Homo sapiens: one gene and its partner. The protein of the gene in region 1 interacts with the protein of each later gene in a biochemical or structural test. Each region holds a gene or a part of one and is shown on either strand. Other genes may lie near its edges.

Region 1 (7,123 bases):
TCCAGCCCCACCACTGCCTGAGACCCACAGCTCTGTTTCCCACCAGAGGCTGCGGTCCTGAGGGAGGCGGCCATGGAGAGCTGGCTGCCAGGCGAGAGGCACTTACCCAGGTGCAGGAAGTCGGCGCTGCAGGATGGGGGCGGAGCACTGTGGGCAGACGGGAAGGATGGTGGGACGGTCACAGAGTCCGAATTGAGAAATTCGCCGAAGAGATCAGGATTGGAGCAGGGCTGGGAGTTGTTGCCTGAAGACGGCAGAAGCGGGCCAAAGGGGTCAGCTGTGGGGACAGGCGGGCATGGGGAGGACTCAGCCCGGCTGCCTGAAGACAAAGGAGCCCAGCTCTGGAGTCAGGCCTGCCCAAGAGGCCACTCCAGCTGGGCAGCCCAGACCCCACGGCTGCCCTCGCAGGGGCACTGAGGCAGTCAGCCCAGGGGCTCCCCGTGCCCCACGCCTCAGGATGACTTTCCCAGGGACACAGCAACACTGCTGAGATGGAGAAGCCAGTAGCTCCCGGCCCGTGAGCTCAGGTGGGCAGCACAGAACCCTGACATGACCCCGAGGCTGCTCCTGGGGGAGGTGGGGGAAGGGCACGTTCCCTTCCTGCAAGCACCTTCGAAACACGCCCATGCAGTGAGAATGACTCAGCCTCATCACTCATCTACTGTGAAGCCACTCGCCTTCAGAACAGAAACACGTACCAGCGGCAGGGGGCCCTCCTCTTGGGGTGCTCTGCACGCTCAGGGGAGGGGCCGGGCTTGCCAGGAGCAGCGGGTCCTCGCTGAGCAGATCCTCCGGGGGCCCCTGGGAGGCGGCCTCAGGGGGCCCAAGGAGGCAGCTGAGCAGGTCGGTGTTGCTGGAGGGGGCCTTGCAGGCCTGCGGGGGTACAGCTGGCCCTGCGCCCACCTCGGAGTGCAGGCCCAGGAGGTCGACCCCGTCTTCCTGTGGCACAGGCTCTGGCAGCACAGCCGGTGTCTCCACCTCAAAAACCAAGTCCTGCTGCACCAGCCCTGCTGCCAGGCCGGGGGGCTCTGGGTCGGCCCTGGGTTCCTGGCCCTCGCTGGAGATCGGGGATCCCCCTTCATCTGACACCTCACTCTCGTCTCTGTCCTCCATCAGGGCAGACTCGCTCTCCTTGGAAGAGGCATTTTCTGCACCAGTCTCTGCCTCCTTCTCTTCTGCGAAAAGGAAACAAAACCACAGGCTAGTGAGACCACACGGCCAGCACCAGGGTCCCCACGGCGCGTCCCTTCAGGGCCTCCTCGGCCCAGGGCCTTGGTGAACACACGTGGCCAGCACCAGGGTCCCCACGGCGCGTCCCTTCAGGGCCTCCTCGGCCCAGGGCCTTGGTGAACACACGTGGCCAGCACCAGGGTCCCCATGGCATGGCCCCTCGGCACCTCCTCGGCCCAGGGCCTTGGCAAGTGCTGCAGGAACACCAGGGTCCCCACGGCGCGTCCCCTCAGCCCAGGGCCTTGGCGAACCCACATGGCCAGCACCAATGTCCCCATGGCACGGCCCCTCAGCGCCTCCTTGGCCCAGGGCCCTGGCGAGTGCTGCAGAAGCTTCTGGGCGGGCGGTGGGGTGTTGTTCCTGAGGCGTCTCCAGCACACCCACCTCCAGCCTCTGCCTCAAGGGTCTGCCTGTGGCTCTCTCCGCCTGGGCCTCTGCGGTGCCTCAGGCTGAGTCAAGTGGGGGCCACATGGCAGCACTAGGGGGTAGGAACACCAATCAAGGGTGCTCTGGGAACAGGCGGCAGAAGGGACGAGCCCGATGGGAAGGCCAGGGGTGCTGGGACAGGAAGTGGCAGGTGCATCCCTTGGGGTGTGTCTGGGGTGAGGTCCAGTGATGGCGCCCAGGTGTTTTCCTGAAAAGCCTCAGAGGGGCTGGGAGCCCACTGGGGGTGTGGGCAAAGAGAGGTGTGGGATCCCCAGGTGGTGACAGTCTGTCCCTCCGCCCAGGCCCTTCCCCTGTACCCAGGGGCCCCGCCAGCATGGCCCATGCTGCCAGCCTCCCCAGGCCCACAGACTGGGATGAAGAGCGAGGGTTGTTATTTCAGACTTTGTGGGCATGTTCTTTTTTTTTCACCTTTAAAAAGATATGAAATCATTCTTAGCTCGTGAGCCATTAAAGAACAGGCTGACATGCCGGGTGCACAGCCCCACTGAGGTGCAACTCAGCTCTGCCGGAGGCCCGTCTCCCAAGACGCTTGCCCTGCCCCAGGGGCACCTCCAGACCAGGGGCCTGCCCTCTGCAAGTGGCCAGGTCCAGGGACGCTGCCTACCCTGCCAGTCCAGCGTGTGCAGGAAGCGACTGGCGTCCGCGCTGCTGCTTGGCGGTGAGTCAGAGTCTGTGGGTTCGGCTTCCGGGGACCCTGCCCCAGCATCATACTGAGCCGTGGAGCCAGGCTGCCGGGGAAGCTCCGGCTTCCCTGCAGGAGAGGGAGGGCGTCAGGGCACTGGCACTGGCCAGCAGCCTCGGGGCAACACTGACCCCAGAGCTGGGAAGTGCAGCCAGGCGGGCGCCAGCACCGTGGCAGGCCAGGCCATCGGTAAAGCAGACCAATGACATGACGGGGAGGGGCTCTCTGAACAGATTCCTGCTATCCACTCGGATGCCACTCTGGGCCATGCGTGCACACTTGGGCACAGCACACGCACACATGAACACGCACAAGGAACCCACCACTGAGGCATCAAACGCCACACATATGCAGGGTACACATGAATGCACACACACAGCTGCACGGTACACACGAATGCATAGAGCACACACACAGGCGCACAGTACACACAAATGCACACACACAGATGCAGGGTACACACGAATGCACACACAGCACACACAGATGCACAGTATACACGAATGCACAGACAGCACACACATAGATGCAGGGTACACATGAATACACACAGCACACACAGATGCACAGTACACATGAATGCACACACAGATGCATGGTACACACGGATGCACAGACAGCACACACACAGATGCAGGGTACACATGAATGCACACACAGCACACACACAGATGCACAGTACACATGAATGCACACACAGCACACAGATGCACAGTACACACGAATGCACACACAGCACATACACACATGCAGGGTACACACGAATGCAAAGCACACACAGATGCACGGTACACATGAATGCACACACAGCACAAATGCACAGTACACAGGAATGCACACACAGCACACACAGATGCATGGTACACAGGAATGCACACACACAGATGCACAGTACACACGAATGCACACACAGCACATACACACATGCAGGGTACACATGAATGCACACACACAGATGCACAGTACACACGAATGCACACACAGCACATACACACATGCAGGGTACACATGAATGCACACACACAGATGCACAGTACACACGAATGCACACACAGCACATACACACATGCAGGGTACACATGAATGCACACACAGCACACACAGATGCACAGTACACATGAATGCACACAGTACACACAGATGCACAGTACACACGAATGCACACACAGCAGAGATGCATGGTACACACAAATGCACACACACAGGCACAGTACACATGAATGCACACAGCACACATAGATGCAGGGTACACATGAATGCACGCACACAGATGCACGGTACACACACATGCACACACTCGGATGCACAGTACACATGCATGCACACACACAAATGGACGGTACACACGAACGCACACACAGCACATACCGATGCATGGTACACACGAACGCACACACAGCACACACAGATGCACTGTACACACGAATGCACACAGCACACAGATACACAGTACACATGAATGCACACACCACTCGTGCACACACACACACGGCACACACCACCCACGGACACATACACAGCACGCACAGGTCACACATACAGCCTCTTTCAGGGACGCTGAAGATGCTCAGAAAGAAAAAGCAAACACTGCAAACCAAGAGCCGAGAACAAGCGTGGCATGAGCAGTGGACGGCCCTGGGCCCACCTGCCAGCACTTCCTGGGCTGCCGTTTCGAAACTGCTCGGAAGTGAAGAGCGACAGGAGCGAGGGTTCTGTTCCACATGCTGCCAGCAGGCCTGAGGCTCACAGTGAGAGTGGACGTGTGTCCAGCACACATGACAAAAATCTGACCCAGACACACGCCTGGGACAAAACCCCGCTTCGCTCCAGGAGCCTGGGTTTTCCTCCCTCTGCCTCCGTCCCTGCCCATGGGCCTCAGAAATTGCAGCCTGCGAGTCCTTCTCTGGTGTAGCTGGTGGTGGTGTCCAACATCCACGACGGAGTTTCCAAAACCTCCTGCAGCCCAAGCTGCTCAGGGCCTGGGTGCAGCAGCAGGCGTGGGGCCCAGCCCTGCCAGAGCTCAGCCAAAGGTGTCTCTCTCCACAGAGACACTCACCAGAACAGGGTTCACCTAATTCACCTGCGGGATCTTACCAAACTTAGACAGAATGTCTTGCTGCTCCTCCCGGCTGGAAAACAGGATTTTGGGGTTCAGCCCCCTCATGCTCGAGTTCTCCCATGGTGGGGCTTCCCGGCTCGGCCTGTCCCTGGGCTCCACCTCCACTTCCAGGTTCACTTGAAATAAATCCGGGTATTTTTCTTGAATGTCACACGCGTCCAGGTCATACCTGCGGTTACAAGTAGACACCACTTAGGAAGGCCACCCAAGTAGTCTGTAAGTCCTTGGACATTCACTAAAGAAACGTGCATGGAAACAGGTGGCAGCTGCAGGCAGCGGGGCGAGAACAACCAGGGCAGCCGGCCACCCCCGCCTGCGGAAGCTGGAGCCCTGTGAGCTGACCCAGCAGCTGTCCCAGGAACCCACAGGGCACCAGCACCCCCGGTCACGGCCCCAGAAGAGCATCATTTCACTCGCTCCTCGGACGTCACAGTGGGGATGCCCGCGACTGTGTTCAAGGCAGAGGGGCACCGGGCGGGGCCGCCATGTTTCCTGCAACTCCAGGGGAGGCCACGTGCTCAGAGCAGACGGGACAACATCCCACAGCTGGAGACTCCGGCACCCAGGCAGGCAGCTCTGAGGTGGGACCCCAGGGTTCCAAGGCAGGCGCTGGCCCTCACTACCCAGCACACACAGACTGCAGCCACCCGGCAGCTCAGAGCACGCACTCTGGGATACTAAATGTGTTTTCCATAAAAATGACGACGTCCGCCCTGACAAAAATCCACAACTGTCAACAGATGCCCATAAAACCAAGACCTCTAGAATCCGGCTGCCAGGGAATTGGGAACATGATTCCGGGGGAAACAAAGCTGTGTTCACTGTGGGGCTGGGGAGGCAGCCCAGGCTGAGCTGTGGGGAGCAGGGCAGAGGTCAGCAGGGCCTGCCTTGGGGTGTCGGCCGTGCGGGTGGGGAGCAGGGCAGGGGTCAGCAGGGCCCACCTTGGGGTGTCGGCCATGTGGGTGGGGAGCAGGGGCAGGGGTCAGCAGGGCCCGCCTTGGGGTGTTGGCCGCACGGGGAGGCAGGTGTGACCTGACACTGACCATTTCCCAGCCCCACAGCTCTCTAAGGAATTCCAGGCTATTTCACACATTTCCTATGATCATCTCTGATCCCACTGTCATAAACTGCACTGATAAGCCTGGGCTCTCCAGCGGGCAGCAGGCTCCCCATGCCTGTCTTATTTTACGCCACCTAAAATCTCTACATGTTGAATGTTATACACCTAAGAAAATAAAGAAGAAACACAAAAGAGTGGCGGCCAGTTCCTGGGAAACCCAGGCTGCCAGTGTCTGCAGGGCCAGGAACACCCAGAGCAGAGTGGGATCCGCCGAGGGAGGGCAGGGAGACGGGCCCGGCGGCCTGTGTGGGTCAGAGCCACGGCTGGTTTTAACTGTCACTTCTCTGAGCTCCACACATGCCTGTGATGTGTGAAAGGCCTCTAGTTCACCCCTTCCTGCTCACCCTCTAAAACATCCTCTCCCTGCACGAGGGGAGAGCACCCTGTGCCCGCCCTGAGGGGTGGCCAACCTCACGCAGAGCAGCGCCCCCTCAATGCCCACTCAAGGCTCTGGGCGGAGGTGGCCACGGCCGAAGCCGGGACTGATGTGCACTCCAGCCGGGGCCAACACGAGCTTCCCCCTGCGCCCGAGCCTCTTTGCGTGCCGCTGTCTGTCGTCAGGGGTGGCAGGGACTGCACAGCGGTGGCACAGCTGGCGTGGAGATGTGGAGGAGGCAACGTCTGCAGAGGAGCCTGCAGGCACCAGCAGAGAATCCGACGGCCACCGCAGCGGAGGCTCAGACCGGCCACGACCGAGGGCGGAGAGGCACAGTGGGAGGGGCACGGAGGGAGGGAGTGTGCAGGGAGCCAGGTCGGCCAGACGGGCTTGGGTCCTGGGACAGACCGAACTTGGGCAGCCCCAGAGGGAGTGCCGCTCATGCCCAGCCTCCCTCCCCCAGCTGCCCCTTGAGATGGCCCTGGGCACTGGGCCTGCAGGCTCGGCTCACCCAGCCTGGCGCTGAGGGCACAATGAGGTCTGTGAGCAGGGCTGGCCACTCCCGAGAGCCCTGGACTGCAGAGGACACTGCCCGCAGGCTCCTGCCAGACTAGCTCCAACAGGGCAGAGCGGACTCCTGACAGGCTCAGCTGTTACATCTGTGCCATGGCTGCAACCCTGTGCTCCTCTCGCCCAGGCACGGCGCAGGCTCACCACGCAGGGAACACGCCTCTCGCCCAGGCACGGCGCAGGCTCACCACGCAGGGAACACGCCTCTCGCCCAGGCACGGCGCAGGCTCACCACGCAGGGAACACGCCTCTCGCCCACAGCGCAGCCTTGATCTCGCAGGTTCAAGCAATCCTCCTGCCTCCCAAAGTGTTGGAATTACAGCTGTAAGCCACTGTGCGCAACCAACCTTTCTTCCTTTTAATGTATGCATTTGAAGTTACACATTTCCTCTAAACCCTGCTTCAGATGCACCCCACACATCTGGTAAGTGGTATTTTGATTATCAATGTGTTTAAAATATTTTCTCATTTCAACAGTGATTTCCTTTTTGGCACACAGGTCACTTAACGAGCATACGGTCTCTGGGTGTTTTCCTGTCACTGATTCCCACTTTAATCCACTGTTGAGATGCCTTGAGA
Region 2 (4,922 bases), on another chromosome or scaffold:
GCGCCACTGCACTCCAGCCTGGGTGACAAGAGTGACCCTGTCTCAGAAAAAACAAAAAGTAAAGTGTCAGCTAATAGTCATACTATTAATAGGGATTTTATTGTTTCTGGTACTATGCATCTAACTTTAGTACTAAATTTAAATATACTGGGTAGAGAGAGCTTTTTATAATGTTTCAGAAAAAACAAAACAAAGTGTCAGCTAATAGTCATATTATTAATGGGGATTTTATTGTTTCTGGTACTATGCATCTAACTTTAGTACTAAATTTAAATATACTGAGTAGAGAGAGCTTTTTATAATGTTTCAGAAAAAACAAAGTAAAGTGTCATCTAATAGTCATATTATTAATAGGGATTTTATTGTTTCTGGTACTATGCATCTAACTTTAGTACTAAATTTAAATATACTGAGTAGAGATAGCTTTTTATAATGTTCTGTTAACACATTGCTAAAAGAGTTAATTAAATCAGAGGAGAAAAAAGCCACCCAGCAAAGGATTGAATTTCATTAACTTTATTGAAAGGTATATCCCTTAGTACTAAAACATAATGGTAGTTGGTTAGTTTACCTCTGCCAACTCAAAATTAACAATGATGTATTCAAAATATTGAAATTTATCAGCCTTTTGGGAAAACTAAAAAGTTACCCATAAAACATGGTTTACAAAAGTTAAGAATAAGATATACTGTGGTTCTTTGGTTTTTCATTGTGTACTGATCCATAACGTGATGTCAAATTGGATATAGCCATCATGGATAGACTCAGGCTATACATTGCACTGAGTAACTGTTTACAACACTTTAACACTGTACTTCTTACATTCACTAACTGCCATGGAGGATCCTAAACACTACTTCAGCAGCTTCATTCATAGTTATGAAGGTGTCTACTTGCTTTTCTTAAGATTTTTGTTTTGGCACAGTAAGGGCATCAGTGGAAGTATATTCTCTATTTATAAAATTGCCATCACTTCTAACTTAAAAACAGTCTGTAGTAAAAAATTCTGGAGTGTTCAATCTAGTCTGAACTTACCTTAGTGTGGGAAAGCAAGTTTTCGAAGTGATAATTTATTTTGAGTTACTAATACAATAGAAACTAGTTTTCTTGATGGGATTCAGTTTGAGGCAGTAGGTTCTGTATAAAAATTTTTATCGTAGATACAAATGTCACCTGTTTTCTAGAAAAAAATATTAAAAGATAACTTAATGAATATGCCAAACTTTATAGGTCTGTATTTTTCTTTATATAAAATGCCCTCAAATTTAAATGTAATTCCCATATAGCAATAAAGTCCACATCTCTAGATTACCTATTACTTGCATTATGGGGTGTGTTTATACTGCCTAGAATGTTAACCCTTATTATGCCTTAAAAGTACATTTGTGAAATGTTGCTTTTGACATAAACCTCATAACTTAAAATTTAAGTAGGAGTAGGATTAGAATAATGACAGTGATTGAAGCTGTGGGAAGACTGATAGTTGATAGTATTAGTGTGACTCCTCCAATAGCATTTTCAATACCACCTAAATATATTGATCCAATATCTAAAGTTAGATCAATGATAGAAATGAAGATTCACAGTTTACCTTCTCAGGCTTGTCATTAGCATTTCACATTTAGGCTTTTAGCTTTGATTTGAATGCTTCACAGATGAATTCAAATCTAAACATAATTCCACTACAGCATAATATTAGGCAGTTTTCCCAAGTCTGAGACCATCATGCTTATCTCGTGATGTTTTGAGGCTTCATAGCTTAAATCCATTGTAACATTATGGAATCCATAGAACAAGGTTGTGGAGAAAGGCTTCAGAGAAGTTTTTTGGTGCTGTAATAATCCTATTTAAATAAAGAAAACAAACAAAATCCAACTTAACAGAAGCCAGTCTGCCTAAATACTACTAAGAAAATTGAAATGTTCATATCTAATATTCATAATCACATGTAGATGTATTAAATGTTAACATTTAGTTTTGAGTAGAATAAATCATCACTGAGTTAGGAAATTTATATGGCAAGAATGTATATCACATATGCAGAAAGCAAGTTTACATTTTTTATGCATATAACTACTTTGCAGTAGTCCAGCTGCTATAGCAATGATAGGTTAGTATAGTGTTGACACACTCTGGCAGTTTCCAGATACCCAATGTAGAGACCATCTATCATATCCTACTTTTTTTCTTTTTTTTTTTTTTTTTGTGGCGGAGTCTTGCTCTGTCGCCCAGGCTGGAGTGTAGTGGCGCGATCTCAGCTCACTGCAAACTCCGCCTCCCGGGTTCCCGCCATTCTCCTGCCTCAGCCTCCCGAGTAGCTGGGACTACAGGCGCCCGCCACCGCGACTGGCTAAATTTTTTTGTATTTTTTAGCAGAGACGGGGTTTCACCATGTTGGCCAGGATGGTCTCGATCTCCTGACCTCGTGATCCGCCCGCCTTGGCCTCCCAAAGTGCTGGGATTACAGGCGTGAGCCACTGCATCCGGCCTACTTTTTTTTCTTTTAAGTACAATATCCAAGTTCATATTGATTTTGCTTATAAGCTAACAGTCTCAAATTAGTTCATACTTGGTTCAGACTTTTGGTGCTGTTGTCCTGCTCAGCTTATGTAATTTTAAATCAGTCAGATACATACAGCAAGATCATGTGCAATTAAAAAAAAGCATGATTTTAGTGCTACAAGGAGGATGCTGTTCTCTAAGCTGAAAATTTAATGAAATGGCTAACGTATGTATCAGAGGTTGGATAATTCCTTACTCCTAAGATGTTGTACCTTGTATATAGTAAAGGCCTTCAAATATTAGCTGACTAGATCAGTGATGTCATCTCCCCCTTTACTATTCCAACTCCATTTTGTTTATTTTGAAGATAATTACTCTTCTTTAGTTGAAAATTATGGCATTGGAAAATGTTCTCTATCTGGAGAATAATAACGGACCAAATTTACCAGTTAAGGGACCATTTCAGGAATTGTTGGAAGGTGAGTTATTCTGTAGTAGCTATGCTTCAATTGCCGTGCAGTACGCCCAGAAACAATCCATTTCAACTTCTGAACATTTGGTTTGGAACACTTATTTGATGAATATTCAGTTAAACATTTGGATACAAGCTCTTGCCAGAAGGTCAGATCTCTGCCATTTATCTGTACATACATAAATTTTAAAAAATTATTACTCCAAGTAAGTCCCACCTTATTTAACTACATTAATAAATGCAATCCTATGAACATGTGTCTTTGCTCATTAAAAACATTTGAGGATAGCTACTTAAGTTTCAAATAAACATATGACATCTCATTTTACTTCAGGAGATAGAAGGGGTTTAGTTTCTTTTACAGCTGTTAATAGGATTTAGGCTATGTCCTTCACATACCTTGGAATGTTTCTGAAGACATTCTATTCCTTCTGTTAACTCTACACACTTCTGTGCTTGGATCTCTAATGCAATGATAGACAATGCCAACACAGAAGGCTAAAAGAGATAAATTTAAAGTAAATGCCAAATATAAAAACAGATCATATCAATAGGCATAATCTTTATAAAATATTTACCTTTGCTTTAGAAAATATGATCCTGCAATGACATGCCTTCAGTTGAGCTTCTAGTCTTTCAAAATTAATGCTATTTCTCCTTTAAAAAGAAAATGGTATTACTTTTATTAGGTAATACTACATCTAGTCAAAAGATGTTTTTAGAAAAACATTGAAGTCAATTTTTAAAGTAAAGCTTATGCACACTTAACATAGCAAATGAACTATTGAAAGGAATTCCCCTTCCATCAGAGATACTAACTTCTAAAGGCACCATATGGGAGTTTTAGATGATTTGGGCCAAAAAATTAAAATGAATAGTACTATGCCACAAATACAAGATTTATTTTCTTTTAGTTTTAATAAATATTTCAACATCCACTGAAGGTCCTTTTTTTCCATAAATTTGTGTTAGATGCTTTCCTACTAGGTTCTATAAAGTCAAAATGTACTTTAATCCCAAGAATTAGCTTTAACGAAGCTATTGACAATGGAACATTTTCTCACTTATGATGGACATTAAAGTTCAAGGAGCCACAGCTGTCATTTTACTTATTTTTATTAGAATTCTATGAGGATACTGATTTTATGCAATATCCATACAATACCATTCTGATTTCCAAATGTCTCTTGTTCAAAACAAAGGTCACTTACCTTTCAAGTGGCAAGTTCTCTTGAAGGAGTGAATAATACAGTTGCAGAAATTGAAAGGCAGTAGTAGCTTTGACTTTCCAACACACCTTCTCCAATACAATCTTTTCCATTCTCATCAAGTCTGAAACCGTAAACCTATATTGACTTATTCGGATCAAGTCAGTTGCCAATGGGACATTCCTTTCCTCTTCTATTGATTTTACAGCCAAATAAAAGCAGCTCAGTCCAACACACCCAAGGTGCTTGGGCTGTACCTAAAAAATCAAAAACAAAACCAGTAAGCCCATGACTCTACCTTATTTCAATTAAAACATAAAGGATAATCTAGAACTCCGACCCAACATTTTGAAAATGTATATTTGAGGTTTATTTCTCAGCTGTGATGGACTTAACACAATCCACTCATACCTAAACTATAGCCTGTCAACACTATGGACCCCACTTAGAACCAATTTTTGAGTAACTGGACTGAGTTTCAGTATAATGTTTGGCTCAGCATAGAAAAAGTGTGTTTTTATTAATCACTGTAGAACTATAAGTAAACATTGTTCTAGTTTGATCAAATAAGTTAACTAGTCAAAGATATATGAGGACTGAAATACTTTATGGCTTATTTACAAAATAAGCCATTTCTTTGCAGGATGTTGTATTTTTTCCAGGCTCTTGTCTTTGTGGGAACACATATAAAACAGTTTTAAAATACTATGGCATATACTGTTTACTCTGCCTCTAAGAGT

The links. The genes of interacting proteins can lie anywhere in the genome.
Region 2: the proteins of GAK (region 1) and CCNG1 form a complex in vitro, tested with the Homo sapiens proteins (one study listed by BioGRID).

What each region holds. Positions count from the first base shown.
Region 1 is NC_000004.12:866,258-873,380, forward strand, and holds part of GAK (cyclin-G-associated kinase), read right to left. Parts: exon of another isoform or gene 7,044-7,123; intron 6,969-7,043; exon of another isoform or gene 6,811-6,968; intron 4,648-6,810; coding exon 4,454-4,647; intron 2,429-4,453; coding exon 2,282-2,428; intron 1,176-2,281; coding exon 699-1,175; intron 278-698; coding exon 107-277; intron 1-106. UniProt on the Homo sapiens protein: Associates with cyclin G and CDK5. Seems to act as an auxilin homolog that is involved in the uncoating of clathrin-coated vesicles by Hsc70 in non-neuronal cells. Expression oscillates slightly during the cell cycle, peaking at G1.
Region 2 is NC_000005.10:163,440,595-163,445,516, reverse strand, and holds the end of CCNG1 (cyclin-G1), read right to left. Parts: intron 4,440-4,922; coding exon 4,186-4,439; intron 3,632-4,185; coding exon 3,553-3,631; intron 3,473-3,552; coding exon 3,374-3,472; intron 3,144-3,373; coding exon 2,952-3,143; coding exon of another isoform or gene 2,949-2,951; intron 1,844-2,948; coding exon of another isoform or gene 1,777-1,843; 3' UTR 501-1,776; downstream 1-500. UniProt on the Homo sapiens protein: May play a role in growth regulation. Is associated with G2/M phase arrest in response to DNA damage. May be an intermediate by which p53 mediates its role as an inhibitor of cellular proliferation.